2 separate regions of the Homo sapiens genome follow, and region 2 is linked to region 1. The links come from fine-mapping of genetic effects on gene expression. A gene starts in region 1. The other region holds a variant in brackets. All regions are shown on one strand. Distances are between the middles of the regions.

Region 1 (16,187 bases):
ACTGGGATTATAGGCATGTGCCACCACACCCAACTAATTTTTTTTTTTTTTTTTTAAGATGGAGTCTCGCTCTGTTGTCCAGGCTGGAGTGCAGTGGCATGATCTCGGCTCACTGCAAGCTCTGCCTCCTGGGTTCATGCCATTCTCCTGCTTCAGCCTCCCGAGTAGCTGGGACTATAGGTGCCCGCCACCACGCCTGGCTAATTTTTTGTATTTTTAGTAGAGACGGGGTTTCACTGTGTTAGCCAGGATGGTCTCGATCTCCTGACCTCGTGATCCACCTTCCTCAGCCTCCCAAAGTGCTGGGATTACAGGCGTGAGCCACCGTGCCCGGCCCAGGATTTTTATAAATTCTAACAGTACAAAGAGTTTTCCATGCAAAGTAAGCTTCCCTCCTGCCCGAGGCCCCACAGGCCTCCATTCTGTGTCCCAGGGGCATCTACTGTCAATCTCTTTTTTTTTGAGACGGAGTTTCGCTCTTGTTGCCCAGGTTGGAGTGCGATGGCACAATCTTGGCTCACCGCCACCTCTGCCTCCCAGGTTCAAGTGATTCTCCTGCCTCAGCCTCCCAAGTAGCTGGGATTACAGGCATGCGCCACCACACCTGGCTAATTTTGTATTTTTAGTAGAGATGGGGTTTTTCCATGTTGGTCAGGCTGGTCTCCACCCACCTCAGCCCCGCAAAATGCTGGGATTACAGGTGTGAGCCACTGCGCCTGGTCTACTGTCAATCTCTTAAGTCGCCATTAAGAGGTGATGCATAAATTAGCATCTCTGGATGTCCTTGCCACCTCAACACATGAGGTAGCATACCACACATCCTCTTCTGTTCCTTGGTTCCTTTTTTCAATTCACTGTCTTGGAATGTTCCATATCAGCCCATCAGTTCTCCCCTGTTCTTTTGTTCAGCTGCCCCTCTAAGGCCTGGTGGTCTTCCTTATGCATGCCACTGCTTCCAGGGTACAGGACACATCTGATCTTCTTGTTGCTATTTAAGGAAGGTGGGGTGGGAACATTATTCCCATTTTCAAGATGAGAACATTGAGGCCTAGAGCAGTCCAAGGCTGCTGGGCAGAGCTGGAGCTCAAATCCAGGTCTCCTAGACTTGTGTCTAGGGTCATCCCCTCCCCAGCATGGTCTTCCACCAAGGCAGAGGGAACTCAGGGAGTCTTGCTGCTACAGGGAACCAGGCCACCCCGCCTCCCCCGTCCCCACCACTTAGCCAACCTTGAGGAGGTCATCTGCTGGGGGTCCCAGCAGCTCACTGACCTATACCTCTCACCCCCAACAGTGCACCTGTGGCGATTCTCAGGTGGCTACCCAGCCCTCATGGACTGCATGAACAAGCTCAAAAACAATAAGGTATGTTAGTGTCCACTCAGCACACCTCTCTGGATGTGGGATGCAGCCCAGCCCTGTTCTGGGGACTACTCTGCTACCCCATGAGGCACACTGTCAGGATGGAGCGCACTTCCTGGTAGCCATGCCTTTACCACCATGCCCACAGGAGTACCTGGAGTTCCGAAGGGAGCGGAGCCAGATGCTGCTGTCCAGGAGAAACCAGCTGCTCCTCGAGTTCAGCTTCTGGAATGAGCCACAGCCCAGAATGGGTCCCAACATCTATGAGCTGAGGACATACAAGCTCAAGGTGCCTCCCTCCGACAGACCCCCTCCTGCCCCCCAATTTCCCTGCTGCAATGCTGCTTTGCAGCTGCCCCAACACCTAGACTGGGGCTTCTGGCTTCTCCCTCCCTATGGGCTCAGAGCAGAGTTGTATACACATGTGTGCAAACATGCACACCAGGTGTGTGTCAGGGCCTGCGAATGAGGCCAAATGGCCGCTGCAGCTTGGGAGGTGGGGAGACAGGGCAGTTTCCCTTCCTTGCCAAGCTGTGATGCTATGAATCTGAGGTGGGGGCTCATTCCCATCATCCCTTTGGTTCTCTTTCAGCCAGGAACCATGATCGAGTGGGGGAACAACTGGTAAGTGGCAGCACCAAGACTGGGGTTGGGGGAGGCGTACCCTGCTCACCTGCCCCACCAAGGCCCCTGGTGGGCCACCTTTTCCAGGGCCATATCACAGGGAACTCTTTACCTTCTGCCCCTCATGGATCTGGGAGAAGGATCCAGCCAGGAGGTGAGGATCTCCTAGAAGGTTGTGACCCCTCCGTTGGTAGAACACCCCGCCATCAGTCCTTTCTCTCAGCATCCCGGAGGACCGTGGGTTCCACCTAGGCCCCTCCTGTGAAGTGTGGCCAAGGAATCAGCCTCAGTACCCTCTGCACCAGCCCTGGCTTCTGCCCCATATTATTGTGCCTTCTCCAGGGCTCGGGCCATCAAGTACCGGCAGGAGAACCAGGAGGCAGTGGGCGGCTTCTTCTCACAGATAGGAGAGCTCTACGTGGTGCACCATCTCTGGGGTAGGTTGAGGACCTTCCAGGAGCCTTTTGTTAGTTCTCTTTCTCTGTCATCACTCTCTGTAGCCAATGGGGTTGTATTAGTGTCCTCATAGAACTTAATGTTCTAGCAGGAGACACTATCTTAGATGTAAAGTCACAAAAAGATCAATTTCAGATTACAAATAATATTTATAGAAAATAGGCAAGGAGTCTGGGAGCGGTGGCTCAAGTGTATAATCACGACACTTTGGGAGGCCGAGGTGGGCAAATCACAAGGTCAAGAGATCGAGACCATCCTGGCCAATATGGTGAAACCCCATCTCTACTAAAAATACAAAAATTAGCTGGGCGTGGTGGCGCATGCCTGTAGTCCCAGATACTCGGGAGGATGAGGCAGGAGAATCAGTTGAACCCGGGAGGTGGAGGTTGCAGTGAGCTGAGATCACGCCATTGCACTCCAGCCTGGCAACAGAGCGAGACTCCGTCTCAAAAAAAAAGAAGAAAAAAAAAAAAGGCAGGGAGAGATGATGGTGAAAAACATAGGGGATCTACATTGGTCTAGGTAGACAAATAATGCCTCTCTGAGGAAGTAAAATGTAAGCTGAGAGCTAAAGGATGAGAAGGAGCCAGCTGTGAATTGCTAGGCAAAAGCATTCCAAGTAGACAGAGCAGCACATGCAAAGGCCCTGTGGTGGGGAAAGGCCTTCGGGGTTTTGAGGTGTGGCAAGGAGGCCAGTGTGGAGTGAGTAGGGAAGAATGTGGGGAGATGGAACAGGAGAGGGGGAATGAGTTGGGATTTATTGTAAATGCAATGAGAGACTATTTGTTTCAAATAGCAGTGACACGACCTGATTTTTGTTCTAGTATGATTTCTCTGGCTGCTGTCTGCTTTGTTAAGAGTGCTTGGTAGGCGAGCAAGAGAGAAAGCAGGGCTTCAGGAAGCCATTACTCTAGTTCAGGCAGGAGGGGATGGGGCAGTGGGATGCTGAGAAGTCCACAGAAGATTTGTTAGTCTAGAGGTGGAACCAACAGGACTTGTGGATGAATTGTCTGTGTGGGGCAAGAGAAGGAGAAGGGCATTCCAGAAGAGCTCCCAGGCTCGTGCTTGAGCTGCTGTGTGTCATCTCCTGAGTCTGGGAGGTCTAGGGAAGGAGCAAGTCAGTGGGGTCAGGAGCGTAATTTTGGCCCTTGGAATTGTTACTTTTTTTTTTTTTCTTTGAGACACAGTCTTGCTCTGTCACCTAGGCTGGAGTGCAGTAGTGTGATCTCAGCTCACTGCAACCTCCGCTTCCCAAGTTCAAGTGATTCTCGTGCCTCACGCTCCTGAGTAGCTGGGATTACAGGCATGCAGTACCATGCCCAACTAATTTTTCTATTTTTAGTACAGAGTTTCGCTATGTTGGCCAGACTGGCCTCGAACTCCTGGCCTCAAGCAGTCCACCAGCCTCGGCCTCCCAAAGTGCTGGGATTATAGGCATGAGCCACCGCACCTAGCCGGAAGTGTTAACACTAAAAATGCTGACACACCAAAGTAGAGATGTCAAGTAGGCAGTAGATGGATATAGGAGTCTGGAGCCCTTGGGAGTGTTTGCGACTAGAAATATAAATGTAGGCAATATTAACATATGTACTGATTGGATGGATGATTAAAGCAGACAGTGTTTGCTAATAGTCTGAGGGAGGCATCTAGGGAGGAGGAGACAGCAGTGCAGGGTTTAGGGGACAGTGGGAAGAGGGCCCTGTGCTGGGTAAGGGATCCAGTCCTCTGTGCCTGAGGAATGAGCCTGTGCCTTTCTCACAGCCTATAAAGACCTGCAGTCTCGGGAGGAGACTCGAAACGCTGCCTGGAGGAAGAGAGGCTGGGATGAAAATGTCTACTATACAGGTGAGTGAAGCCTTTGGAGGTCTTCTGCTGAGAACCCTGTCTGAGGATGGAATCCTCTCTGCAAGGAGATCTAGTCTTTCTTGATTACCTCCAGTGATGGGGAACTCACTTTTAAGACAATGAGTTAATGGGTTTCTATCCAAGTGGCACACTCCATAGGATACCAGCAGGCCTAGGTGAGTACTCTAGGGGATGATAACATAGCCAGGGCCACGCCTCTGCCTAGGAGATGTGGATTAGCAAACGCCCATTGTGACCTTGGGCACGGTTCTTTACCTCGCTGAGGCTGTTCCCTCGTCTGTAAGATAGTGATGGTGATAGTGCTTCTGTCAGAGGGCTATAACGGAAGATTCTACAAACTATTTTATTATTTTATATTTTATTTTATTTTATTTATTTTTGAGACACAGTCTCACTCTGTCACCCAGGGTGGAGTGCAGTGGCATGATCTTGGCTCACTGTAGCCTCCGCCTCCCAGGTTCAAGCCATTCTCCTGCCTCAGCCTCCCGAGTAGCTGGGATTACAGGCGTGTGTCACCATGTCCAGCTAATTTTGTATTTTTAGTAGAGACGGGGTTTTATCATGTTGGCCAAGCTGGTCTCGAACTCCTGACCTCAGGTGATCCGCCTGCCTCGGCCTCCCAAAGTGCTGTGATTACAGGCATGAGCCACCACATCTGGCCCACAAACTCATTTATGAAAAGTGCTTTCTCCAGTGTCTGTCACAAAGGAAGCATGCAGGAAATGTTTTTGAATAAGGTTTTTGTTTTTGTAGAGATGCAGTCTTACTATGTCACCCAGGCAGGTCTCAAACTCCTGGGCTCAAGCAGTCCTCCCACCTCAGCCTTCCAAAGTGCTGGGATCATAGGCATGAGCTACTGTGCCCAGCCTTGAACAAGTTTTTTGCTCAAGGTGTTTGCCACTTTGCTAGGAACCTGAAACCACCTAGAGTCAGTGGGTGTTAATTAAGCCCTCACTGTGTGCCGGGAACTGTGGTAGGTAGGTGGTTGAGGGGCACATAAATGAACAAGAGCCTGTCCTTGCCATTGAGAAGTTTACAGTGATCACTTACCAGGTGGTATGAGGGAGAATGTGTCTGCTGAAGGAGTTAGCAGGAGCCTTGCTATTCAGTGTGGTCCCAGCTGGGTATGGTGGCTCACAACTGAAATCCTAGTACTTTGGGAGGCCAAGGCAAGAGGATCACTTGAGGTCAGTAGTTTAAGACCAGCCTGGGCAACATAGGGAGACCCCATCTCTACAAAACATTTTTTAAAAATTAGCAGGACGTGGTGTTTCCCATCTGTAGTCCCAGCTACTTGGAAGGCTGAGGTGGGAGGATCACTTGATCCCAGGAGTTTGAGGCTGCAGGGAGCCATGATTGTGCCATTGCACTCCAGCCTGGGCAACAGTGAGACCCTATCTCAAAAATAAAAAATAAAAATAATAAAAAACAAGACAAGCACAGTGGCTTACACCTGTAATCCCAGCACTATGAAGTTGAGGTATGTGGATCAATTGAGGCCAGGAGTTGGAGACCAGTCTCGGCAACATGGTGAAACCTCGTCTCTACTAAAAATAAAAAAAATTAGCCAGGCATGGTAACTCAAGCCTGTAATCCCAGCTACTCGGGAGGCTGAGGCACAAGAATCACTTGAACCCAGGAGGCGGAGGTTGCATTGAGCCGAGAACCTGCCACTGCACTCCAGCCTGGAAGACAGAGTGAGACCCTGTCTCAAAAAAAACAAAAAACAAAAAAAATCAAGTGTGGTCCCAACTGACAGTATTGGCATCCCCTGGGAGCTTGTTAAGAATGACAAATCTCGGCTGGGCGCAGTGGCTCACGCCTGTCATCCCAGCACTTTGGGAGGCTGAGGTGGGCAGATCACCTGAGGTCAGGAGTTCAAGACCAGCCTGACCAACATGGAGAAACCCTGTCTCTACTAAAAATACAAAATTAGCCAGGCATAGTGGCACATGCCTGTAATCCCAGCTACTCGGGAGGCTGAGGCAGGAGAATCGCTTGAAACCGGAAGGCAGAGGTTGCAGTGAGCCGAGATAGTGCCATTGCACTCCAGCCTGGGCAACAAGAGTGAAATTCCATCTCAAACAAAGAAACAAACAAGAATAACAAATCGCAGGCTTCCTGCAACCTACCAAATCAGAATCTGCACATTAACAAGAACTGCCAAGTGATTTGTATGCACATTAAAGTTTGAAAAGCTCTGAGCTGGAGGAAAGAGTCTAACCTCCTGGATGACCTGGAGCTGACCTTCTCTAGGCTGCACCCTCTCTATCTGTAAAACGAGGCAGTTGGTCTAAATCAGTGTTTTTCTTTTCTTTTTTTTTGAGACGGAGTTTTGCTCTTGTTGCCCAGGCTGGAGTGCAATGGCCTGATCTCGGCTCACAGCAACCTCTGACTCCCGGGTTCAAGCGATTCTCCTGCCTCAGCCTCCCGAGTAGCTAGGATTACAAGCATGTGCCACTACGCCCGGCTAATTTTGTATTTTTAGTAGAGAGAGGGTTTCTCCATGTTGGTCAGGCTAGTCTCGAACTCCTGACCTCAGGTGATCCGCCTGTCTTGGCCTCTCTAAGTGCTGGGATTATAGGCACAAGCCACCATGCCTGGCCAACAGATAACTATTAAAATTTAAGAAAATGTTATTCTCATCACCACCAAAGTCCTGTCTTATCCCATAATTTGAGGGATCTGGTGCTCTTCATGGGCCCTTCCACGAGGGCAATGGGACATTCCTGTCGCAGCATCTGGGGCCTCCTCCTGCCCACTCAAAGGCCAGCATGTGTGGGTGGGGCCAGGGGAGGTTGTTGGCTTGCTTGAGCCCCCTGTGTGACCTCTGCCTTCTCTCTCCGCAGTCCCCCTGGTGCGACACATGGAGTCTAGGATCATGATCCCCTTGAAGATCTCGCCTCTGCAGTGATGCTGCCTACACCTCCACCTCCTTCCCCTTCTCCCTCAGGCAACCCCGACAGACAGTGGCACTCCTGGTCCTGCTGTCTTGGTTTTGTCTTGGCTCTGGGAGGACTCTGAGGGGCAGTGCTCAGTTCAGACAAGGGGGAACTGAAGGCTGACAAGTTCTGAGGATTACAGCTCTGCCCAGGCCCTTTCTACTTTCCCTGCCTGCCTCCCTCCCCCTGCTAGAAGTAGTTTCTGATTTCCCTGAATGAAAGATAGTGATCTTTTAGGCCTTCATTTATCTTCTAAAATTCCTCATCTCAAGGCCACCAGTCCCCAGTTATCACCCTTGGAAATCCTCTGTTTAGCTTAGTTGCACAAAAGGTAGTATGTCCAGTGGCTAGAGGTGGGGTGGGAAGAGAGGAGGCCAGGCCAGGCCCTCAGGAATTCCCTGGTTTCCACTGGGCCACCCACTTGCTGGACAGTCTGAGCCAAGTCCCTCCTGCTGGAGAAAAGCCTGGAACTGCCAAAACAAAAAAACAAATACAAACAAACCTCGTCACCACGGTCAGGAGGAGGTTCAGACATTCTGCCCAGAGGGGCTGGGGAAAGGGATGGGAGCCAGGAAAGATTTAGGGGCAGGAGACAGACACGTAACAGGAACTCGGAAGGTAGAACTTAGAATTCAGAACTTGGGTTTCAATTGTAGAATTTGGAATCTGGAATACAGAATTGGGAAGAAGAACAGAGATGACAAAAGACCACTTGAAGAGAGGTTCCTAATACTAGACAGATGGAGAGTGGCTTGGCTGTTTCCCCCTGCATATTGGGGTTGAAAACTTAAATGTGTAGTTCCAGTCCTTCTATGCAGAGTCTCTCCTGCCCTCCCTCCTTCCTGCAGGCAAATATACAAGCTAGACCCTGTTCCCTCACCCTGTATCCTGTCTCCCCTAATTGACATTCTATCAGCCCAACCCTCATTCTGCAGGGCCACCTGGTGTGTGGAGGTGGCGGGAGGGGTCAGTGACTCTGGGGGTCTCCTCAGTGACCCCCATACCTCATCATGAACCCTTGGGTAGCTTGATTCTGCCTACCATCCAGGAAAACTTGTGCTGGAATTGCTGATGGAAACAATTAAATATTTACTATAAATCAGTGTCTTTTCTTCATCTGCAAGGAACTTTAGCAGGTGCCTGAGGCAGGGCACAGTAGAGCTGGTGGGCTTAGTCCCACATGGCAGATCTACCCTCCTGGAGGGTACTGTGTTCTTGAGCTATTCTCAACAGTCAGTACTGGTTGGGTGCAGTGGCTCACGCCTGTAATCCCAGCATTTTGGAAGTCCGAGGTGGGCAGATCACTTGAGTGAGGTCAGGAGTTCAAGACCAGCCTGGGCAACATGGTGAAACCCTGTCTCTACTAAAAATACAAAAATTAGCTGGGCATGGTGGTGCATGCCTGTAATCCCAGCTACTTAGGAGGCTGAGGCAGGAGAATCCTTTAAACCCTGGAGTCGGAGTTTGCAGTGAGCGGGGATTGCGCCACTGCACTTCAGCCTGGGTGAGAGAGCAAAACTCTGTCTCAAATAAAAATAAAAATAAAAAAGAGCCAGTATTTTCCTCCTTGCTCCTGGGAAGGAGAAGGAACTGGCCCCGTACAACCAGGGATTCAGGACACGTGTTACTAGCTCCAGATGAGGATTTACACGAAAAAATCCTGGGCCTTGTTTGTACAGTTCATGCCAGGGGTAGGAAATACCTGAAGCTTTCAAATACTGCGTTAGAGTTGTGACTCTGTCCTGGGCAAGTCAGGCCTAAAATGGAGAAACTGGTGATGCACTCCTCAAAAAGCCAAGTGTAAAATGAGGTTAATGCCCTCCCTGACTTGTTGCCTTCACTGGCGTGGCATATTATGGTAAAAATAATAATTAAGAAGTAAGGTTATGCAGGCAAATCCTCTAGCGCCGAAATCTTCCCCGCCGCGCTACCAGGTTCTTTCGTGTTATCTTGGACATAACACAACATTAATTCAACTACTCGGTGGAGCGCCCACTAGCTGCTGGACACTCTCTTAGGCCCTGGGCACAGTGAACGAGAAGCATGTGTCTTTGTTTTTACAGTCTCACCACGCCACCACCTCCCTCGGGGGCCTCCGCGCTGAGCTTCCGGCCTCTACGCCTCGCTTCCGGTCGGCCGCCCCTTCCTTACTTCCGGTTCTCTATGGTGCGCGGGCAAGCTTTGCTCCGCCTCCGGCAGTGGCTTACTCCCGGTGCCAGGTTCTTGGAGCTGTGAGGTGAGGAGGGGACAAGGGCAGTGGGGCTGGGAGATGGGGCGGGGCTGGGCGCTCCGGGACTGAGGTGCTGATCGCCCAAAGGGCGCCCCTGGGCTGGGGTCTGACCCGGCTTCTCCTCCCTCACTACCCGCGGTCCCCGGCCTCTCGGCGCTGCGCTGTTACCTCATCCGAAAAGTGTTCGCTGCAGCATCCTCAGGCTTCACGTTGGAGCCTCTTGATTGTGGTAATGTAGCCTGATGGGGGTGGGGGTGGTGGTGATGGTAACAGCTCACATATATCGTGCTCTTCGGTGTGCCAGGCACTCTACTGTGTTGCCAAAGTCAGGATTTCCCACACTTAAGCCTTTCAGGTCCGGTCTTTGTAGGCTTTGCCAGATCAACTTACCACCTCTACTACCGTTTATTAAAAATTTGTTTGTTTGTTTGTTTTAGTATTTATTGATAATTCTTGGGTGTTTCTCGCAGAGGGGATTTGGCAGGGTCATAGGACAATAGTGGAGGGAAGGTCAGCAGATAAACAAGTGAACAAAGGTCTCTGGTTTTCCTAGGCAGAGGACCCTGCAGCCTTCCGCAGTGTTTGTGTCCCTGGGTACTTGAGATTAGGGAGTGGTGATGACTCTTAAGGAGCATGCTGCCTTCAAGCTTCTGTTTAACAAAGCACATCTTGCCCCGCCCTTAATCCATTTAACCCTGAGTGGACACAGCACATGTTTCAGAGAGCACGGGGTTGGGGGTAAGGCTATAGACCAACAGCATCCCAAGGCAGAAGAATTTCTCTCAGTACAGAACAAAATGGAGTCTCCCTTGTCCACCTCTCTCCACACAGACACAGCAACAATCCGATTTCTCTATCTTTTCCCCACATTTCCCCCCTCTCTACTAGACAAAACCGCCATCGTCATCATGGCCCGTTCTCAATGAGCTGTTGGGTACACCTCCCAGACGGGGTGGCGGCCAGGCAGAGGGGCTCCTCACCTCCCAGAAGGGGCGGCCGGGCAGAGGCGCCCCCCACCTCCCGGACGGGGTGGCGGCCAGGCGGAGGCGCCCCCCTACCCCCGACCCGACGGGGCGGCTGGCCGGGCTGGGGCTGGCCCCCACCTCCCCCCCGGACGGGGCGGCTGGCCGGGCGGGGGCTGCCCCCCACCTCCCGGACGGGGCGGCTGCTGGGTGGAGGGGCTCCTCACCTCTCAGACGGGGCAGCCGGGCAGAGACGCTCCTCACCTCCCAGACGGGGTCGCAGCCGGGCAGAGGTGCTCCTCACATCCCAGACGGGGCGGCGGGGCAGAGGTGCTCCCCACATCTGAGATGATGGGCGGCCGGGCAGAGACACTCCTCACTTCCTAGACGGGATGGGGTCCGGGAAGAGGTGCTCCTCACTTCCCAGACTGGGCAGCCGGGCAGAGGGGCTCCTCACATCCCAGATGATGGGCAGCCGGGCAGAGACGCTCCTCACTTCCCAGACGGGGTGGCGGCCGGGCAGAGGCTGCAATCTTGGCACTTTGGGAGGCCAAGGCAGGCGGCTGGGAGGTGGAGGTTGTAGCGAGCCGAGATCACGCCACTGCACTCCAGCCTGGGCACCATTGAGCACTGAGTGAACGAGACTCCGTCTGCAATCCTGGCACCTCGGGAGGCCGAGGCTGGCCGATCACTCGCGGTCAGGAGCTGGAGACCAGCCTGGCCAACACAGCGAAACCCCGTCTCCACCAAAAAATACGAAAACCAGTCAGGCGTGGCGGCGCGCGCCTGCAATTGCAGGCACTCGGCAGGCTGAGGCAGGAGAATCAGGCAGAGAGGTTCCAGTGAGCCGAGATGGCCGCAGTACAGTCCAGCTTCGGCTCGGCATCAGAGGGAGACCGTGGAGAGAGGGGGAGGGGGGAGGGGGAGGGGTTTACTAAAAATTTTTAATCCAGTCCAAATTTTTTTTTTGCAACGGGATCTCTGTTGTCAAGACTGAGTGCAGTGGCGCGATCATAGCTCACTGCAGCCTGGAACTTCTGGGCTCAAGCCATCCTCCCACCCTAGCCTCCAGAGTAGCTTGGGACCACAGGTGTGCACCGCCATACTAGGCTAATTTTAAAATGTTTTCTAAAGATGGGGTCTCGCTCTGTTGCCCACTCTGGTCTTGAACGCCTGGGCTCAAGCGATTCTCTCACCTCTGCTTGCCTTGGTTTCCCAAAGTGTTGGGATTACAGGTGTGAGCCATGGTGTTGGGCCCAGTCACTTTTTTTGTTGTTGTTGAGACTGAATCTCGCTCTGTTGCCCAGGCTGGAGTGAAGTGGCTGCGATCTCGGCTCATTGCAACCTCTGCTCCCTGGGTTCAAGTGATTCTCCTACCTCAGCCTCCTGAGTAGCTGAGATTACAGGCGCCCGCCTCCACTCCCGGCTAATTTTTGTATTTGTGGTACTGACGGGGTTTCACCATGTTGGCCAGGCTGGTCTCAAACTCCTGACCTCAGGTGATCCACCCGCCTCAGCCTCCCAAAGTGCTGGGATTACAGGCCTGAGCCACTGCGCCCAGCCAAGTCACTTTTTAAACTCAAATTTACTTTGAGAGAAAACTTGAAATCTCTCCACCAGAAATGGAAAGCTGCTTTCACTTGTTTTATGTAGAAGGTAAAAATTAATATAGTTAATATAATGCAACTAGATCATTGTTAACAAACTCTGGCTAGATTTTGTTGTTTAAGGCTGTGGGATAGAGTTCTTTTGTTACAAAGGAACATTGGCATTCATAGATGTTAAAGACAAACTAGGGAACTGAGATGTTCTCCTTGAAGCAATCAGAAGTTTCAAAATAAGAATTGAAAAGGGATTAACTTTCTCCTTAGGTGTTCAGCATTATTTAAGATCACCTATGCATCATCTGAAGCCACAGTCCCAGGTCATCTTCATCACCTTCCCCAGTGGAATGCCTCCTGTGTTAAAGCCCACAACAACCCCTGTGGTAGGGACTGTTATTCTCATTTGATTTGTGAGGAATCAGACCCAGAGAAAAGTGAAGTGACTCGTCCGGGGACTCATAGCCATGAAAGAGTAGAATGGAGATTCCAGTTCAGGGCTCTCTGACTTTTACCGTGACAAACTATTGGCTCCCTCAAGTCGGGGATGTGGAAGCTTCAGTGAGTGATGATTGTGCCACTGCACTCCAGCTTGGGTGACAGAGCAAGAGGGATTAGGGTAAAGGGGACAGTGCTGCCCACCTCAGGAGGCTGTGGTGAGGCAACAAGGGAGGATGCTTTGTGACTGTAGAGCCCCATGAAATGTAGGTTCTATACTTTAAATTCTAGGATCAACCTGGGAGTCAATGGCATCACTAGATGAGAGGCTGGCAGGACTAGGAGGCATAAAAGTGTAGTTAAGAGCACCAGTATGGCATTGATTGGATAGATCCGGATTTTGGCCTACTAGTCATGTGACTCGCAATTACTTGCAAGTAATTCCCCTTGCGAGCCTCAGTTTTGTCATCTGTGAAATGGTGGTAGTTCTTAGCTGAAAAGTTTGTTATAAGGAGCAAATGAGAACATACCCATAAAGTAGTTAGATCAAGGCCCAGCACACAGTGATCACAGTAGTATTGGGAGTGTCTTTAAATGCCAGACCGAGGAGTTTGGATACTAATTTATGGAGCACTCTGCCAGGCTCAGGGGGAAGAGGGTAGAGCTCACAATCTAGGTGGGAAGACAGGTAAATGATTCATAGAGATAAATTCCCTAATAGTGTACCCAAAGTAGCCAAAAGAGGGCTTTGGGGAGACCTGACAGGCTTCCTAGAGCAGATGAGCATTGCTTAGTCTTGAAGGATATAGGGAGGAAAAGGAAGATCTTTGCAAGCAGGGGAAAAGACATGGAGTGTTTGGGGAACTGGGATTGCAGGGTGCAGTTGCAGCTAGGAGCAGAGGTTGGGGACAGTGGGAAGGTCGGTAGGAATAGGAATGCAAGAAATGAAGTTGGGAAGGTAGGTTGGGGACAAACCATCAAGGGTCTTTATGACAAGTCAGGGAATATGGATATTCAGTGCATTATGAAGAGCCAGCAAAGGTTTTGAAACAGGAGAGGCATTAATTAGGTCGGTCTTTTTTAAGAAAGAGAATTTAGACAGTATTGTTGGGCAAGACTGTTAGAGTAGTCCTGGAGAGGAATGTGGAGGGCCTGGCCTAGGGTGTTGAGATGGAGACACACATGGTGCCTGGATAGCTGGGTGAACACTTGAATGCAGGTCTCCTCTATGGAGAGTGTGGAGCAGGATGTGGGTGGAGGCAGGGCAGGGAGAGGTTGAAGTAGATGATTCCGAGGTCAGTGGGAGTGGGTGGTGATGCCTTTTTAAAAGAGAAGGTGGAGTTTGTTTTGGACAGGCTGAGAGATGCTTCCCTGTTGTATTACAGAGGGTTAAATTGAGGCTTTGAGGGGTTAAATGACTTTCCTTGAGTTACCAAGTCTGTAAGTGGCCAGAACTGCTAGTTTGACTTCAGTGTTATGACTCCAGAAGAATCTCAAAAACTTTCTCCTCTTAACAGGAGGAACAACCATGTCATCAGAATCGAGCAAAAAACGGAAGCCCAAAGTGATCCGAAGCGATGGAGCCCCAGCTGAAGGAAAGCGGAATCGATCTGACACCGAGCAGGTGAGATCAGTCAGGGTTGCCATGCTGCTGAGAAATTACATCTCATGGCCAAGCACCTGGCTGTGTGTTTGCAGCAGCTCGGGGTCGCATCTACCAGGTACAACTTTTTGGTGGCTTCCACTTGACCAGGTGACTGGGATTCCTGTTTCTTCACTAAAGCTGAGTGTCCACATCTGGTTTAGCTGCAGCATCTCCAAAACCAACAAGCCTGTATTAGACATGATTATACCTACCCAGAGAATGTATTCCAGTATGATATGTGTCTCCAGTTTTCCTGATGGTCAGAAGAAGGTAGTCCATCTGCAGCATGGCACTGGAGCTTCAGGAATCCCTCGGTGTGCTGCTGAGACAATACCAGAACCATGTGCCCACAGAACCTCTTTTGTGGCCTGAGAGCTCATGTGGTCGTCAGGTTCTTTTCTTCTTTTTGTCTGTTTCTCTGTCCTTGAATCTGTCAACTTCATTTGTGACTTAGCTATTTAAAAAAAATTTTTTTTGAGACAGGGTCTCACTGTGTCGCTCACGTCGGAGTACAGTGGCACGATTTCTGCTCACTGCAGACTGCATTTCCTGGGCTCAAGCGATCCTCCCACCTCAGTCTCCCAAGTAGCTGGGACCACAGCTGCACGCCACCATGCCCAGCTAATTTTGTATTTTTTGTAGATATGAGGTTTTGCCACGTTACCCAGGTTGGTCTCAAACTCCTGAGCTTAAGTGATCTACCTGCCTTGGCCTCCCAAGGTATTGGGATTATAGGTGTGAGCCACCCCGCACCCAGCTGGAATTCCTCTCTATAGGAGACTGTCATGCAGCCATTTTGATTGAGATCTGTATTTACTGGGATGGTCATATGGTTTGGCCGTGTCCCCACCCAAATCTCAACTTGAATTGTATCTCCCAGAATTGCCATGTGTTGTGGGAGGGACCTACGAGGAGGTAATTGAATCATGGGGGCCGGTCTTTCCCATGCTGTTCTTATTATAGTGAATAAGCCTCATGAGATCTGATGCGCTCATCAGGGGTTTCTGCTTTTGCTTCCTCCTCATTTTTCTTTTGCTGCCGCCATGTAAAAAGTGCCTTTCACCTCCTGCCATGTTCCTGAGGCCTCACCAGCCATGTGGAACTGTTAAGTCCAATTAAACCTCTTTTTGTTCCCAATTTCAGGTATGTCTTTATCAGCAGCGTGAAAATAAACTAATCCAGTAAATTCATACCAGTAGAGTGGGGGTTTGCTGAAAAGATACCTGAAAATGTGGAAGCGACTTTGGCACTGGGTAACAGGCAGAGGTTGGAACAGTTTGGAGGGCTTGGAAGAAGACAGGAAAATGTGGGAAAGTTTGGAACCTCCTAGAGACTTGTTGAATGGCTTTGACAAAAATGCTGATAATGGGCCGGACATGGTGGCTCACGCCTGTAATCCCAGCACTTTGGGAGTCTGAGGCAGGTGGATCACGAGGTCAGGAGTTAAAGACCAGCCTGGCTAAGATGGTGAAACCCTGTCTCTACTAAACATACGAACAAATTAGCCAGGCGTGGTGGCGGTAGCCTGTAATCCCAGCTACTCGGGAGGCTGAGGCAGAGAATTGCTTGAACCCAGGAGGCAGAGGTTGCAGTGAGCCAAGATCATGCCACTGCACTCCAGCCTGGGTGACAGAGTGAGACTCCATCTCAAAGAAAAAAAAAAAAGTTGATAATGATATGAACAATAAGGTCCAGCCTGAGGTGGTCTCAGATGGAGATGAGGAACTTATTGGAAACTGCAGCAAAGGTGACTCTTGTGTTTTAGCAAAGAGACTGAAAACATTTGCCCCTGCCTTAGAGATTTGTGGAACTTTGAACTTGAGAGAGAGGATTTAGGGTATCTGGTGGAGGAAATTTCTAAGTAGCAAACCATTCAAAAGGTGACAGGGCCATGTGCAGTGGCTCACGCCTATAATCCTAGCACTTTGGGAGGCCGAGGCAGGTGAACCACTTGAGGTCAGGAGTTTGAGACCAGCCTGGCCAACATGGCAAAACCCTATCTCTACTAAAAATACAATAAAAATTAGCCAGACATGGTGGTGGGCCCCTGTAATCCCAGCTACT
Region 2 (16,187 bases), 51 kb after region 1:
TGGCTTGGGCTCCTATAAAAAATGTGAATAAGCTCTGAAGCATTATAGAAGCACTGGAATGACATGAGGAATGACATCACTGCAGTTGTTAATCAGCATTGCAGCTGTTAATCAGCATTGCAGTTGTTAATCAGCATTGCTGCTACTAAGTCAAACATGCCATGGAACACGTTTTTAACCAACATCTTCTGACTTAGGTCTTATTTTGAGACTGCTTCCCTGCACACCTCTGTTTTCCTGGCTGTGGGCATATGAGGCAGGGAAAGCTATGGGTCAGAATCAGGAAGACCTCATTGTCTTGATGAGGGGGCCTGAGGACAAGCCAGTCTAGCTTGATCTGATGGCCTAGCCCCTGGCCCAGCCCCTGCAGAGGCATCAGCGCTCGGGCCCATCCAGGGACGGAAGCCTGGCCAGTGTGGTCCCCCACATGCAGGAAGGTAGTGCTGAGATGCTGGCTTTCCTATCACACAGGCCATGGAGGGCGAAGTCAATGTGTGCTACAAGGAGCTGTGTGGCCCTTGGCCCAGCCACCAGCTGTTGACCAACCAGCTGCAGCGGCTGTGTGTGCTGCTGGATGTTTACCTGGAGACCGAGAGCCATGACGACAGTGTGGAGGGGCCCAAGGAATTTCCCCAGGAGAAGATGTGTCTGCGGCTCTTCAGGTGAGGAGAGGGTTGGGGCTCTGGTGACTTCTCATGGTGATGTGGGACAGAGATCAGAGCCAGATTTTCTGGGGAGAGCTTGCTTCTTCCTTCCTGAAACTTCCCCTGCAGCCGATGCCTATCACTCTGGTCCACCTGTTTTTCACTAACACCTCCTGAAGGTGTTAGTGCCAGGTCTGAGCCAAGAGGATTTGGCTGAACTTTATTTTCTATACTTTCTGTGGAAAACAATAGAGTTTGTTTGCTTTTTAGTGTCCAAATAAGCTTTTTAAACTGTGTGCATCCTCGCCTGTCCCCAGGGAGTCTGCTGTGGTCTTTCTAGGGTACTGTCCTGTCAGTGAGAATCACAGCTTAGGCAGTCAGGTGGCACAGAAGGAACCAGCTTCAAAGTAAAACAGATAGGAGTGCAGATCTCTGTTTTGCTGCTGACCTTAGAAGAGTCAGTTCTGCTTAGCTCTGAGCCCTCCTCCAGCTTTTTGTTTGTTTGTTTCCTTTTCTTTGAGACACGGTCTTACTCTCTTGCCCAGACTGGAGTGCAGCAGCATGATCATAGCCCACTGTAGCCTTGCAGTCTTGACCTCTGGAGCTCAAACGATCCTTCCGCCTCAGCCTCCCTAGTAGCTGGGACCACAGACATGCACCGCCACACGCAACTAATTTTTAAATTTTTTTGTAGAGATGGGGTTTCACCATATTAGCCAGGCTGGTCTCAAACTCCTAGGCTCAAGTGATCAGCTTGTCTCAGCCTCCCAAAGTGCTGGGATTACAGGCATGAGCCATTGTGCCTGACCCCTATTTTCTAAAGACAGAAATGGTGAAAGTAATACCTTCTAGCTCATGATGAAGCAGAAGTAATTCATATAAAGTCCTGGCACAGGACTGGGACTCGGAAAATGCCAGCAGTTCCTGACAGCTTGGTACTCAAGAGTGTCTGGGCTCATGGCACTTCCAGCTACTTTTCCTTTCTCTTTCATTTTGGGTCCTTTATTTCCCTTTCAGCCTCTAACTCATGTTCTTTTAAGAGTCAGTTTCAAAACTGCAGATTTCACTGCTCAGGCATCCCTTCCCTTCTGCATGAGGTTGGCGGGGAGCAGTGTTTGGGAAGGAAGAAGAGTGATAATCTGTTTCTAATCAGAACATCCCCCCTTGTTCCCTGTCAGTCTACACAGTGCCTTATCTCTCCCTCACCTTGTTCTCTGTTCCCTGTCAGTCTAAGCAGTGCCTTACCTCTCCCTCACCTTGTTCTCTGTTCCCTGTCAGTCTAAGCAGTGCCTTACCTCTCCCTCACCTTGTTCTCTGTTCCCTGTCAGTCTAAGCAGTGCCTTACCTCTCCCTCACCTTGTTCTCTGTTCCCTGTCAGTCTAAGCAGTGCCTTACCTCTCCCTTACCTTGTTCTCTGTTCCCTGTCAGTCTAAGCAGTGCCTTACCTCTCCCTCACCTTGTTCTCTGTTCCCTGTCAGTCTAAACAGTGCCTTACCTCTCCCTCACCTTGTTCTCAGACAGCCAGTTCTAGCCCCTAGAAGCAGTCCCAGCATCCTTTCACCTCATCTGACACCTCCACTGGCCTGGTTCATTATGTTATCTCATAATAACCAGTTCCAGCTCTGAGTGGCTGCTGGGAGGTGGAGCTGGTGGCCAGATGCTGGCACCTTCTAGGACTTGCTCTCTCCCTAGAGGGCTTGTGTGAGACCTCTGCTCTTCTCACCTGCCCAGCCCATTCTAGCACATTGCCAGGGTGGGAATTCTCACATGGCCAGCATTGATTTCCTCTTCTCCAGTGGTTCCCAAAGGACCCATTTCTTTTTCTTTTTTCTTTTTTTTTTTTTTTTTGAGACAGAGTCTCACTCTGTCGCCCAGGCTGGAGTGTAGTAGCATGATCTCGGCTCACTGCAACCTCCACCTCCCGGCCAAAGGACCCCATTCTTGAAGGGCTTTGTTGTGTCTCCAGGCTGAGCTCCTCTGTCAGCATTCTGGGAAGGTGCTCCTTCAGTGACTCAGATCCAGTTAACTCTATGGCCGGTAGATGTGAGAGGCAAGGCTCTCCGGCCAGGATGCAGAGTGCTGGCATGGGCAGCAAGAGACCTGAGGCCAGGAGTTCCACCAGCCTGGCCAACATGGCAAAACCTAAACTAAACCTCAACCTAAACCCGGGCGTGGTGGTGCATGCCTGTAATCCCAGCTACTTGGGAGGCTGAGGTACAAAAATCCTTTGAACCCGGGAAGCAGGGGTTGCAGTGAGCCGAGATCACGCCACTGCACTCCAGCCTGGGCGACACAGAGACTCCGTCTCAAAAAATAAAAAAAGGAACAATCCTAAAAAGTGAGGGTGCCTAAAGCTATGTCCCCGAAGTGCCACTGTCAGTGAGGGCCTTTCCAAGTTTGTGTTCACTCATTTGCAAGCACAAAAAGACATTTTTACAAAAATAGTATCGCACCTTATATGTTGTTCTGCCGTATGCTTTTCTCAACAACATTCTGTGTCATGTAACTCTGCCTCTTCTTTTTCCCTTGTGTGAATGAACCATAATTTATTTTATCAGCCTAGAAGGTGTGTTATTAACAACTCCGTTCTCCTATTTCTCTAGGGGTCCTAGCAGGATGAAGCCATTTAAATACAACCATCCTCAGGGATTCTTCAGCCATCGCTGATCTCCCGCGCAGACCGTTGTTTCCCCCAAGGCCTCACCCTGAGCACTGGGCTTCTGCTTTCTGCTCTGGCCCACATGTGACTCTTGATATT[C/T]TCCAAAGACACCAGCCAATTAAAAAGCGTCACCTGACCAGTGGCCTTTGTCTGTGGTTCCTGGCAAGGTGGCTTTGCAGTCTGGAAGGGCAGGTGGGAGCTGTGACACAGTGTGAAAAAGCATTTGTAGAGAGACTTTTTCTCAGCAGCCAATAAAAGCAGAGTGGAAAAAGATTCCAATTCTGCAGAGAGATGCTCACCTCTTGTCTACGCACACCCTATTTGTGCTTTGCGGGGTGAGGTCCTCATGATCTTGTATTTATTATCCCAAGTTCCTGCTGTTAAGAGGTGGTAGGAGAAGCCAAAGGCAGCAGAGCACAAAAAGCAAAACTCTTCCCTCCCCACCCGCTCTTCCCATTAGTCCTGTCAGGGTTGCCGATGGACAAATTGTCTCTGATCGTTGGATGTTATAAATGTCTGACAGTGCAGTGCAAACAGAAGACAAACTCAGTTGATCCTTGAACAACTCAGGGGTTAGGGGCACCAACACCCCCTGCCCTGCACAGTTGAAAAATCCGTGTATAACTTTTGACTCCCTAAAAACTTAACTAATAGCCTGCTGTTGACCAGTAGTATGCTATTAGTAGTTACTTACTGCTAACATAGTCAGTACATATTTTCAGTATATATTTTGTATCTTATACACTGTATTCTTACAATACAGTAAACTAGAGAAAAGAAAATGTTATAAGGAAAGTCACAAGGGGGCCTGAGTGCAGTGGCTCACGTCTGTAATCCCAGCACTTTGGGAGGCCAAGGCGGGTGGATCACTTGAGGTCAGGAGTTTGAGACCAGCCTGGCCGACATGGTGAAACCCTGTCTCTACTAAAAACATGGAAATTAGCCAAGCGTGGTGGCGCATGCCTGTAGTCCCAGTTACTCAGGAGGCTGAGGCAGAATTACTTGAACCCATGAGGCAGAGGTTGCAGTAAGCCAAGATCACGCTCCTGCGCTCCGGCTTGGGCGAGAGTGAGACTCCGTCTCAAAAATAAATAAATAAGAAAGCCATAAGGAAGAAAATATATATCTACTATTAAGTAGAAGTGGATCACCATAAAGGTCTTCACATACTGTCTCAGGGTTGAATAGTCTAAGGAAGAGGAGGGGTTGGTCTTGGTGTCTCAGGGATGGCAGAGGCAGAAAAAGTGGGGGAGGTGGAGGGGGAGGCAGGCACCACTGTTATTTTTATTGAACAAAATCTGTGCAGGGACTCATGACTGTAATCCTAGTACTTTGGAAAGCTAAGGCGGGAGGATCCCTTGAGGCCAGGAGTTCAGGTCCAGCCTGGGCAACGTAGTGAGAGACCCTGTATCTACAAAAAATTTAAAAATCAGCCAGGTGTGGTGGTATGCACCAATAGTCCCAGTTACTCAGAAGGCTGAGGTGGGCGGATGACTGGAGTCCAGGAGTTCAAGGTAGCAGTGAGCTATTCATCGTGCCTGTACTGTACTCCAGCCTGGGAAACAATGCGAGTCCCTATCTCTAAAAAATTTTAAAAAAAGAAATCTGCATATAATAGACCCACAGAGTCCAAACTATTGTTCAGAGATCAACTGTACTTCACAGAGAGTAATTCTAAGTCTTACAGGATTTCATGGAGATGGCGAGAGTGGTGTTGGAGAATCAATCACATACAGAGATACAGGACAGTGAGACCAGGTAACATTTGAGGAGAATATTTTTTTTTTATTGAGACAGGGTCTTGCTCTGTTGTCCAGGCTGGAGTGCAGTGGCACGAACACAGCTCACTGCCGCCTCAACCTCTCCTGGGTTCAAGTGATCCTCCTGCCTCAGCCTCCCAAGTAGCTGGGACCACAGGTGTGTGCCACCATTTCTGGCTAATTTTTAAATTTTTTGTAGAGGCGGGATCCCACTATTTTTCCCAGGCTGGTCTCAAACTCCTGGGCTCAAATGATCCTCCCACCTCGGCCTCCCAAAGTGCTAGGATTATAGGCATGAGCCACCACACCCGGCCTGAGTAGAGTCTTTAAGGTAATGACAAAAGTGCCTCAAAATATAATTATTTGATTAAGAGAAGTCTTGGGAAGATAGGTAACAACCTTTAAAATGTTCATAAAATTACATCCTTTGTAATACTCCTGCAAGTCAAAGTAAAGGATGGCATAGACTATTCTTGGACAGTTTTGTCAAAAAGTGTATCTTGACCCCACCATCAGTACTCCATTCTTCATTTTAAAAAATAAGATGGGCTGGGCACAGTGGCTTACGCCTTTAATATCAGTACTTTGGGAGGCTGGTGGGCGGATCACCTGAGATCAGGAGTTCAAGACCAGCCTGGCCAACATGGTGAAACCCCGTCTCTACTAAAAATACAAAAATTAGCTGGGCATGGTGGTGCGCGCCTGTAATCCCAGCCACTCGGGAGGCTGAGGCAGGAGAATTGCTTGAATCCCCGAGGCGGAGGTTGCACTGAGCCGAGATGGTGCCACTGCACCATCTGGACAACAGAGCAAGACTCCGTCTTGGAAAAAAAAAAAAAGATGTAGAAATGTAAAAATATTTGAGAATTATTACATAGTTGCAGATATAGTTTGCTAACTCCAAGAGGAAACACATTTTATTTTTTGTGATTGTCCTGATGAAACTTTATCCCCCCACAACATGCTGTTAAGCTTGGTTCCCATCATAAGCATATTCCCCCTAAGTGGACTTTTACTGATTTTCCATGGATAATGCAGACCTCCAGTATAAAAGCTATTCCTCCAGGTCTCTCTGCCGACCACTGAGTATCCCAGGGATAAGGATTTTAAGAGTAAGAGCTAAGTAATAAATTCCTGCCCCTAGCAGGGCCGTTCATTTTACGGATGAAAACCTGATCCTTGCTGGGCGTGGTGGCTCATGCCTATAATCCAAGCCATTCAGAAGGCTGAGGCAGGAGGATTGCTTGAGCCCAGGAGTTCAAGACCAGCCTGTGTAATATAGTGAGTCCCCATTCAGAAAAAGAAAAGAAACCTGAGCCTAGCAAGGAGAAGAGAATGGTACCTTTGGTGGCTGTTAAATCACCACCGCTACCCTCAGTCCACATCAGTCCTTTGAATTCCAAAGGCAGGTACTCTCTAGCTCAGAGGTCCTCGAACTTCAGCCTGTGTGGGAGTCACCCATCCTGGCACCTGATTAGAAACACAGACACCCAAGTCCCATTCCAAATATTCTGACTCAATTGACCTGAGATGCACCAAGGAAGTGTATTTTTTTATTTTTATTTTTTGAGCCTTGCTCTGTCGCCCAGGCTAGAGTGCAAGGGCGCAATCTCAGCTCACTGCAACCTCTACCTCATCGGTTTAAGTGATTCTCCTGCCTTAGCCTCCCAAGAGCTGGGATTATAAGTGTGCGGCTAATTTTGTATTTTTAGTAGAGACAGGGTTTCACCATGTTGGCCAGGCTGGTCTCAAACTCCTGACCTCGGGTGATCCACCCACCTTGGCCTCCCAAAGTGCTGGGATTACAGGTGCGTGCCACCACGCCCAGCCAGGAAGTGTATTTTTAACAAGGATCCCTGGGTATAGGCTGCCCTGGTCTCTTTATGGAAGGCACTGTACTTTCTTCCCTTCCCTTCCCTTTCTTCATTTTTCTTGATGACTCTACAGGGCCAAATTCTCTGGGCAGCTGTCTTTCTTCTGTCTTCTGCACTTGGGTAGCAGCATGAGCATCTGGGTGCTTTTTTTTTTTTTTTTTTTTTTTTTTTGAGACGGAGTCTCGCTCTGTTGCCCAGGCTGGAGTGCAGTGGCATGATCTCGGCTCACTGCAACCTCAGCCTCCCGGGTTCACGCAATTCTCCTGCCTCAGCCTTCTGAGTAGCTGGGATTACAGGCGCCCACCACCATGCTAATTTTTTATATTTTTAGTAGAGATGGGGTTTCACCATGTTAACCAGGATGGTCTCGATCTCCTGACCTCGTGATCTGCCCGCTTCGGCCTCCCAAAGTGCTAGGATTACAGGCGTGAGCCACCGCGCCTGGCTAAGTATTTCTCTCCACATAGCGAGATCTCCTTGTCTTTTCCCTGACCTACTTGCCTGGGACTTTGTCCCAGGCGGCATCCCCCTGGTCTGTCCACCTTCAGGCCTTGTGTCTCACCGCCTGTGCTGAATAAGATTGAAATAGAGCCTAAAAATAGTTTAATGGCCCCTGCATTGCAGCCTGCACTTCTCTGTTCTTGGCTGGAAGGCAGCCAAACTGACTCAGCACAAAAGCTCATCTCCAGAAGCCGGGACAAGATTTCAAAGAGGGCTTGTGAGGGCTGGGAAGAGGCTTTGCTTCTTAGACAGGGGATATCAGAGCCTGTCACCCTCCAGAAGAGATTTTCCCTTTCCAGAGAAGCAGACTGAACAAAAGAATCCCTTGGCTTTAAGGAGGATTTTAAAACAAGCGAGAAGCCCAGGTCAATCCCTCCCCTGTGAGCTACTTAGCCATTCATGCCAAGGGTGGGCAGATTAGGGGGAAAGGGACTGGCTTGGGAGGACCTAGAAGCTTCCTCCTCAGCTGGAATTGTCCACGGACTTTTGGCAGATTATACTCTGGGGCATATCGCAGACCGCAGCCCATCTGTCGCTCTCTTGTACCTGGGACTCAGCCTGTGTTCCTTGCTTTTTTTTTTTTCCCCTTTACAATTTTTTTAAAACATTTTTTTTTCTTTTGTAGAGACAAGGTCTTGCTATGTTGCCCAGGCTAGTCTTGAACTCCTGGCCTCAAGCAATCTTCCCACCTCGGCCTCCCAAAGTGCTAGGATTACAGGCGTGAACCCACCATGTCAGGCCTGTTCCTTGCCTTTTTAAAGCTGCCGTCCACATTCCTGATTTATTGGTATCTTCTAGTTTCTCCCTTATTTTCTTCCTAGCTTATCCCTTACTATTTTCTCTGCAAATAACTCCACAGACTCTTTTCATAAACTTAAGGGTGTTCTTGCTGATCACTCCGCAAAGCTAAGCAAAACTCTATCCCTAGGAAGGAGCAGGGCTGCCAGACTTCCAAAGGAACTTTGTCCCTGTCGGTGTAGCCGACTCTGTCCTTTCTATGGCGTTCAGCAGTGTCTCTGATGAGAATAGGCATTAAGCATCTATTTTGGGTCAGGCCCTGTGCTAATCACACTTTTACATTCACTGTCCTATTTAAATGAAACTTAGTGTATAAGTCTTTTGCCTCCTTGGTTAAATTTATCCCTAGGTATTTTATTATTTTTGATACTATTATAAATAGAATTATTTTCTTAATTTCTTTTTCTGATTGTTCATTGTTGGTGAGTAGACATACAATTGTTCTTTGTGTGTTGACTTTGTCCCCTGCTGCTTTACTGAATTCATTTATTAACTCTAGTAATTAAAAAAAACTTTTCTGCCAGTCTGGGCAATATAGTGAAGCCCTGTCTATACAAAAATAAGATTTAAAAATTAGCCAGGCATGGTGGCGCATAATTGTAGTCCCAGCTACTCAGAAGGCAAAGGCAGGAGGATCACATGAGCCCAGAAGTTGGAAGCTACAGTGAGCTATGATCACACAGGTGCACTCCAGTCTTGGGGACAAAGTGAGACCTTGGTCTCTAAATAAATAAATAAATAAAAGGGTTTACTGTGGATTATTTGGGATTTTCTATATATGTGATAATGTCATCTGCAAATAGAGATCGTTCTATTTCTTCCTTTCCAATTTGGATGCCTTTTCTTTTTCTTGCCTAATTTCTCTGGCTAGGACTGCCAGTACTGTGTTGAATACAACTGTGAAAGTGGGCATCTCTGTCTTGTTCCTGATCTTAGGGGAAAAGCTTTCAGCTTTTCACCATTGGTTTTGTGTTTTTTGTTTTAGATACAGGGTTTTGCTCTGTCACCCAGGCTGGAGTGCAGTGGTGCAATCAAAGCTCACTGCAGCCTTCAACTCCAGGGCTCAAGCAATTCTCCCACCTCAGCCTCCCATGTACCTGGAAATACAGGTGTGAGCCATCGTGCCCAGCTCCCCTTCATTCTTTAAGGCAAGGTAGTGTACTACATTAATTGATTTTCTTTCCTTTTTTTTTTTTTGAGACGGATTCTCGCTCTTTCACCCAGGCTGGACTCAGTGGCGCTATCTCGGCTCACTGCACGCTCCGCCTCCCGGGTTCACTCCATTCTCCTGCCTCAGCCTCCCGAGTAGCTGGGACTACAGACGCCCGCTACCATGCCCGGCTAATTTTTTGTATTTTCAATAGAGACAGTTTCACCGTGTTAGCCAGGATGGTCTCGATCTCCTGACCTCATGATCCACCTGCCTCAGCCTCCCAAAGTGCTGGGATTACAGGCGTGAGCCACTGCGCCCAGCCGATTTTCTTTTCTTTTCTTTTCTTTTTTTTTTTTTGAGACAGAGTCTCACTCTGTCGCCCAAGCTGGAGTGCAGTGGTGCAGTCTTGGCTCACTGCAACCTCTGCCTCCCAGGTTCAAGCGATTCTCCTGCTTCAGCCTCCCGAGTAACTGGGACTAGAAGTACTCGCCCCACCATGCCTGGCTAATTTTTGCTTGCTATTTATTTATTTATTTTATTTATTTATTTTTTTTGAGATGAAGTCTCCCACTGTCGCCAGGCTGGATTGTGCAGTGGCACAAACTCAGCTCACTGCAACCTCCGTCTCCCGGGTTCAAGCGATTCTCCTGCCTCAGCCCCCCGAGTAGCTGGGATTACAGGCGCGTGCCACCACACCCAGCTAATTTTTGTATTTTTAGTAGAGATGGGGTTTCCCCATGTTGGCCAGGATGGTCTTGACCTTGTGATCCGCCCACCTTGGCCTCCCAAAGTGCTGGGATTACAGGCATGAGCCACTGCGCCCAGACTGAATTTTTTTTTTTTTTTTTTGAGACAGTTTCACTCTTGTTGTCCAGGCTAGAGTGTAATGGAGTGACCTTGGCTCACTGCAACCTCCGCCTCCTAGGTTCAAGCGATTCTTCTGCCTCAGCCTCCCAAGTAGTTGGGATTACAGGCACGTGCCACCATGCCTGGCTAATTTTTGTATTTTTAGTAGAGACGGGGTTTCACCGTGTTGGCCAGGCTGGTCTTGATCTCCTGACCTTGTGATCCACCTGCCTTGGCCTCCCGAAGTTCTGGGATTACAAGTGTGAGCCACCCCACTTGGCCAGATTTTCTCATTTTTCTTGAGTCAGTTTCAGTAGTTTTTATATTTCTAGGAATTTATGCATTTAATCTAAATTATTGAATTAGTGGACATACGGTTGTTCACAGTATTGCCTTATAATTCCTTTTATTTCTGTAAGGTTGGCATTAATGCCTTCTCTTTTATTCTTGATTTTAGTAATTTGAGTCTTTTCTTCTTTTATCTTAGTCAGTCTAGCTAAAGGTTTGTGAATTTTGTTGGTCTTTTTAGGACCTTTTTTTTTTTTTTTTTTTGAGACAGAGTTTCACTCTTGTCATCCAGGCTGGAGTGCAATCTTGGCTCACTGCAACCTCCGCCTCCCGGGTTCAAACAATTCTCCTGCCTCAGCCTCCCAAGTAGCTGGGATTACAGGCGCTCGCCACCATGCCTGGCTAATTTTTGTATTTTTAGTAGAGATGGAGTTTCACCATGTTGGCCAGGCTGGTCTCGAACTCCTGACCTCAGGTGATCCGCCCTCCTCAGCCTCCCAAAGTGCTGGGATTATAGGTGTGAGCCACTGCGTCCGGCCAAGACCTAACTTTTAATTTCATTGATTTTCTGTGTCATTTTTATATTCTCTATTTCATTAATTTCCACTCTAATCCTTCTTTGGGTTTACTTTGCTCTTCTTTTTTCAATGTCTTAAGGTAGAAATTTAGGTTATTGATTTGAGATCATTCTTCTTTTCCTTTATTTATTTATTTAGAGACAGGGTCTTGCTCTGTCACCCAGGCTGGAGTGCAGTGGTGTGATTGTAGCTCACTGCAGTCTTGAACTCCTGGGCTCTGGCAACCCTCCTGCCTTGGCCTCCCAAGTAGCTGGGACTACAGGTACACGCCACTGTGCCTGGTTAATTTTTTAATTTTTATTTTGTAGTGACGGGATCTCACTATGTTCCCCAAGCTGGTCAGGAACTCCTGGGCTCAAGTGATCCTCCAGCCTTGGCCTCCCAAAGTGCTGGGATTACAGGCGTCAGCCACTGTGCCTGGCCTCATTCTTCTTTTTAAATGTAGACATTTACAACTTTAAATTTCCCTCTAAGCATTGTTTTACTTGCATACCGTAAGTTTTCATATGTTATATCTTCATTTTCGTTCATCTAAAAATATTCTGATTTCCCCTCTGATTTCATCTTTGACCCATTGGTTATTTAGGAGTGTTTGTTTTTCACATATTTGTGACTTTCCCAGATTAGTTATTAACTTTTACTCTAGTGTGATCAGAGAACGTACTTTGTACGATTTCAATTCTTTTAAATTTATGGAAGCTATTTTTTTTTAATTGAGGCTTTTTTTTTTAAAGATGGAGTCTTGCTCTGTTGCTCAGGCTGGAGTGCAGTGGCACCATCTCGGCTCACTGCAACCTCCGCCGCCCGACTTCAAGTGATTCTCCTGCCTCAACCTCCTGAGTAGCTGGGACCTGGTACCGGTGTGCATTACCACATCTGGCTAATTTATAAATTTTTTGGTAGAGACAGGGTTTCACCATGTTTGTGAGGCTGGTCTTGAACTCCTGACCTCAAGTGATCCACCTGCCTCAGCCTCCCAAGTGCTAGGATTATAGGCATGAACCACTGTGCCCAGCCCTAATTAAGGCTTTTTTATTTTTATTTATTTTTAATTCATTTATTATTATTACTTTTTGAGATGGAGTCTCACTCTGTTGCCGAGGCTGGAGTGCAGTGGCGTGATCTCCACTCATTGCAACTTCTGCCTCCCAGGTTCAAGTGATTCTCCTGCCTCAGCCTCCCAGGTAACTGGGATTACAGGTGTGTGCCACCATGCCTGGCTAAATTTTGTATTTTTGGTAGAGACAGGGTTTCTCCATGTTTGCCAGGCTGGTCTTGAACTCCTGACCTCAGGTGATCCACCTGCCTCAGCCTCCCAAAGTGCTGGGATTACAGGTGTGAATATATATATGTATATATGATGGTATACTACTCAACCATAAAAAGGAATGTATTAACAGCATTTGCAGTGACCTGGATGAAACTGGAGACTATTATTCTAAGGGAAGTAACTCAGGAATGGAAAACTAAACATTGTATGTTCTCACTGATATGTGGGAGCTAAGCTATGAGGACGCAAAGGCGTAAGAATGATACAATGGACTTTGGGGACTTGGAAGGAAGAGTGGGAGGGGGGTGAGGGATAAAAGACTCCAAATATGGTGCAATGTACACTGCTTGGGTGATGGGTGCACCAAAGTCTCCCAAATCACCACTAAAAAATGTACTCATGTAACCAAACACCACCTGTTCCCCAATAACTTATGGAAAAATAAAGTAATAAAAATTAAAAACAAACTAGTTTTATTTTTTGCTTTAACATGTTTACTAATATAGATGTAATTTATTTAGCCAGTCTCCTATTAGTGTATAATCAGTATATTTTCTGTTGTTCCAAATTATAACCAAAACTGAGGTACATAGATTTCATATTTGAATATTTCTGTATATACCTAAGTATTTATTTAGGATACATTCTTCAAAGTGGCATACCTTGGTTAAAGACTATCTAAGCTTGAGGCCAGGCACAGTGGCTCAAGCCTGTAATCCTAGCACTTTGGGAGGCTGAGGTGGGTGGATCACGAGGTCAGGAGTTCAAGACCAGCCTGGCCAAGATGGTGAAACCCCATCTCTACTAAAAATACAAAAATTAGCTGGGCACAGTGGCAGGTGCCTGTAATCCCAGCTACTTGGGAGGCTGAGGCAGGAGAATTGCCTGAACCCAGGCGGTGGAGGTTGCAGTGAGCCAAGATCACACTACTGTGCTCCAGGCTGGGCAATAGAGTGAGATTCTATCTCAAAAAAAAAAAAAAAAGACTAAGGTTTTAAGGCTTTTGATATATTTCGTTAGATTGTCTTCCTGGAAGATTTTCATTCCAAGCATTAGCTCCAGAAAATTCAGGTTTCTCTACATAGCTGCTAACACTGGGTATTATCATTCTTTTGGATCTTCTGCTACCTGCACTCCATCCACTGTGGACATTTATCATTACCAATGTCCAACATTCACTCCTTTTTCTCCTGCTAAGAGTACTTCTATTTTCCTTTGGGAAACTCCCCTCTCAAACTCTCAATTTCAGACTGAGGGGTCTGACATATTCCCTAGCTCCAGGGATGAGCAGGTGAACTCTGTCTAGCTCATCAGTGTCTCATGCATTGGCTCAAGGAGGATCATATGGCCCTACCAGCCCAGTGAGAACCAAACCCTGGACTTTTACTGGAATATTGAACAAGAGTTCTTTTTTCTCCCCTGAGTTTGCTAACCTGGTAGGATATAAGCCCAAAGCTTCTGGAGACCACATGGAGATGTTCTGCCTGACGTTAAAGCTGACACAAAAGGAAGCAGCTGAGAGATGGAGAAATGAGTGACAGCTTCCTGGGGAACATCATTTGAGAGTTCCCCTGGATCCAGCCATTCCTGAAGCAATTCAAGCTTCTCTTTTTTTTTTTTTTTTTTTTTTTTTTTTTTTGAGACAGTGTCTCACTCTGTCCCCCAGGCTGGAGTGCAGTGGCACAATCTCAGCTTGCTGCAACCTCCACCTCCCAGGTTCAAGTGATTCTCCTGCCTCAGCCTCCTAAGTAACTGGGATTACAGTCATGCACCATCACACTCAGCTAATTTTTGTATTTTAAGTAGAGACGGGGTTTCACTGTGCTGGCCAGGGTGGTCTCGAACTCCTGACCTCAGGCGATCCATCCACCTCGGCCTCCCAAAGTGCTAGGATTACAGGCATGAGCCACCACGCCCAGCTACGATTCAACCTTCTTGAACTCCTTGGGGTTATGTAAGCTAATATATTTATCAGCAGCAGCAGCATTAGTAAGTATTTTGCACAAACTAGTTTAATTCTGTTTTGGTCACTTGCAACAGAAATAATGCTGATGATGCTGGGTGCTGTGGTTCACACCTGTAATCCCAGCACTTTGGGAGGCTGAGGTTAGTGGATTGCTTGAGCTCAGGAGATTGAGACCTGCCTGGACAACATGGCGAAACTACGTCTCTACCAAAATATAAAAAATTAGCCAAGCGTGATGGCACGCAACTGTGGTCCCATCCCAACTACTCGGGAGGCTGAGGCAGGAGAATCACTTGAACCTGAGAGGTGTAGGTTGCAGTGAGCCAAGATGGTGCCACTGCACTCCAACCTGGGTGACAGAGCAAGACTCTATCTCGATAAATGAATGAATGAATGAATGTAGGTTTTTCTAAGTAAGGGTCACCCAGGGAAGCTTTATTTTATTTTATTTGAGACAGAGTCTCCCTCTGTTGCCCAGGGTGGAGTGCAGTGGCTTCATCATAGTTTGCTGCAGCTTCAAACTCTCAGACTCAGGCTATCCTCCCATCTTAGCCTCTGGGACTACAGGCACAGGCCACCATGGCCAGCTAATTTTTTTTTTTTTTTTTTTTAGTAGAGATGAGGTCTCGCTATGTTGCCCGGGCTGGTCTCAAACTCCTGGGCTCAAGCATTCTGCCCACCTCAGTCTCCCAAAGTGCTGGGATTATAGGCATGAGCCACCACATCCAGCTGAGATGACTATTTTTGATCAGTCACACATCCCTTTGCCCCTTTCCCCATCTTTCCCATTTATTTAGCTTACTTTCTGGTATAATCCATATTCATTGCTTTTATTACTATTAGGTAAATATTGTTACCTGTTGAATTGGCTAGTATATAATAATTACAACTTCTTCTTACACACAATTTTTCACTTCTCCTGGAGTTAATGTTTTCCTCCCTTTTATTACTTGTTTTGTCTTTGAAATTGACTAAATATTCCCGCAGTCTCCAGTAGTTCAATAAAAGACTTTCTTTTCTTTTTTTTTTTTTCCAGATGGAGTCTTGCTCTGTTGCCCAGGCTGGAGTGCAGTGGTGCAATCTTGGCTCACTGAAACCTCCCTGTCCCGGGTTCAAGTGATTCTCCCTGCCTCAGCCTCCCAAGCAGCTGGGACTACAGGTGCGCACCACCATGCCTGGCTAATTTTTGTATTTTTAGTAGAGACAGGGTTTCACCATGTTGGCCAGGCTGGTCTCGAACTCCTGACCTCAGGTGATTCACCTGCCTCAGCCTCCCAAAGTGTTGGGATTACAGGCATGAGCCACTGCACCTGGCCCAGTAAAAGACTTTCAATTCAATTTTACCCACGGTCATTCATGTCAAATAATTTGTCAGGTTTTTTTTTTTTTTTTTTTTTTGTGCCTCAGAACTCCCCCTCTTCCCCCAGACTCACTCCAATCTGGATGGAGGCTACACAGCTATTGTCCATCAATTTCTCTTTGTCATCAACCTAAGGAGTCCCTTCTCTCATCTTTGTGTAGCCCCTGTTTTCTGTATTCCCAGAGTTTCTATTTCCTGGCTTATGCTCACTTTTTGTTGAAGCATGTCCTCCAGTAATTTATGGAAAGTAATTTTTTGAGACTTCGTAAGCCTGAAATTGTCCTTTTTCTACCCTCATGCTTGATTTATCAGTATAGACTTCTAAGCAGTGTCCATCATTGCTGCTGAGAAGTTTGGGGCCATTTTGATTCTGTTTTTTTTTTTTTTTTTTTTTTTTTTTGAGACGGAGTCTCGCTTTGTCGCCCAGGCTGGAGTGCAGTGGCATGATCTCGGCTCACTGCAAGCTCCGCCTCCCAGGTTCACGCCATTC

Alleles and levels. Alleles are on the strand shown, and positions count from the first base shown. SD is a standard deviation of normalised expression in the study named.
In carriers of allele C in region 2, the expression in monocytes of the gene that starts at base 9,397 in region 1 tends to be higher than with T alone (moderate effect, 0.43 SD a copy in Fairfax 2014).

The links. PIP is the estimated chance that this variant, and not a neighbour inherited with it, causes the effect.
Region 2: its variant is fine-mapped to the expression of THOC5 in monocytes (Fairfax 2014, PIP 0.95). The same link has a PIP of 0.9 or more in B cells, NK cells, monocytes after LPS and monocytes after interferon gamma.

Annotation. Positions count from the first base shown.
Region 1 is chr22:29,546,967-29,563,153 of GRCh38, reverse strand. It overlaps THOC5 (THO complex subunit 5), which reads left to right and starts at 9,397. Exons shown (of 20, transcript NM_003678.5): 1 at 9,397-9,483; 2 at 13,996-14,102. The coding sequence starts at 14,007. It overlaps NIPSNAP1 (nipsnap homolog 1), which reads left to right. Exons shown (of 10, transcript NM_003634.4): 5 at 1,292-1,362; 6 at 1,508-1,648; 7 at 1,952-1,983; 8 at 2,326-2,420; 9 at 4,201-4,284; 10 at 7,155-8,346. The coding sequence ends at 7,219. RefSeq lists enhancers at 9,027-9,096, 8,480-9,177, 10,575-11,274 and a silencer at 9,497-9,686.
Region 2 is chr22:29,495,581-29,511,767 of GRCh38, reverse strand. THOC5 (THO complex subunit 5) reads left to right here. Exons shown (of 20, transcript NM_003678.5): 19 at 472-662; 20 at 3,248-5,889. The coding sequence ends at 3,311. Among named protein-coding and RNA genes, the nearest start is that of NEFH, 23 kb to the right of the region's middle. The variant C/T (reference allele first, on the strand shown) is at 3,403.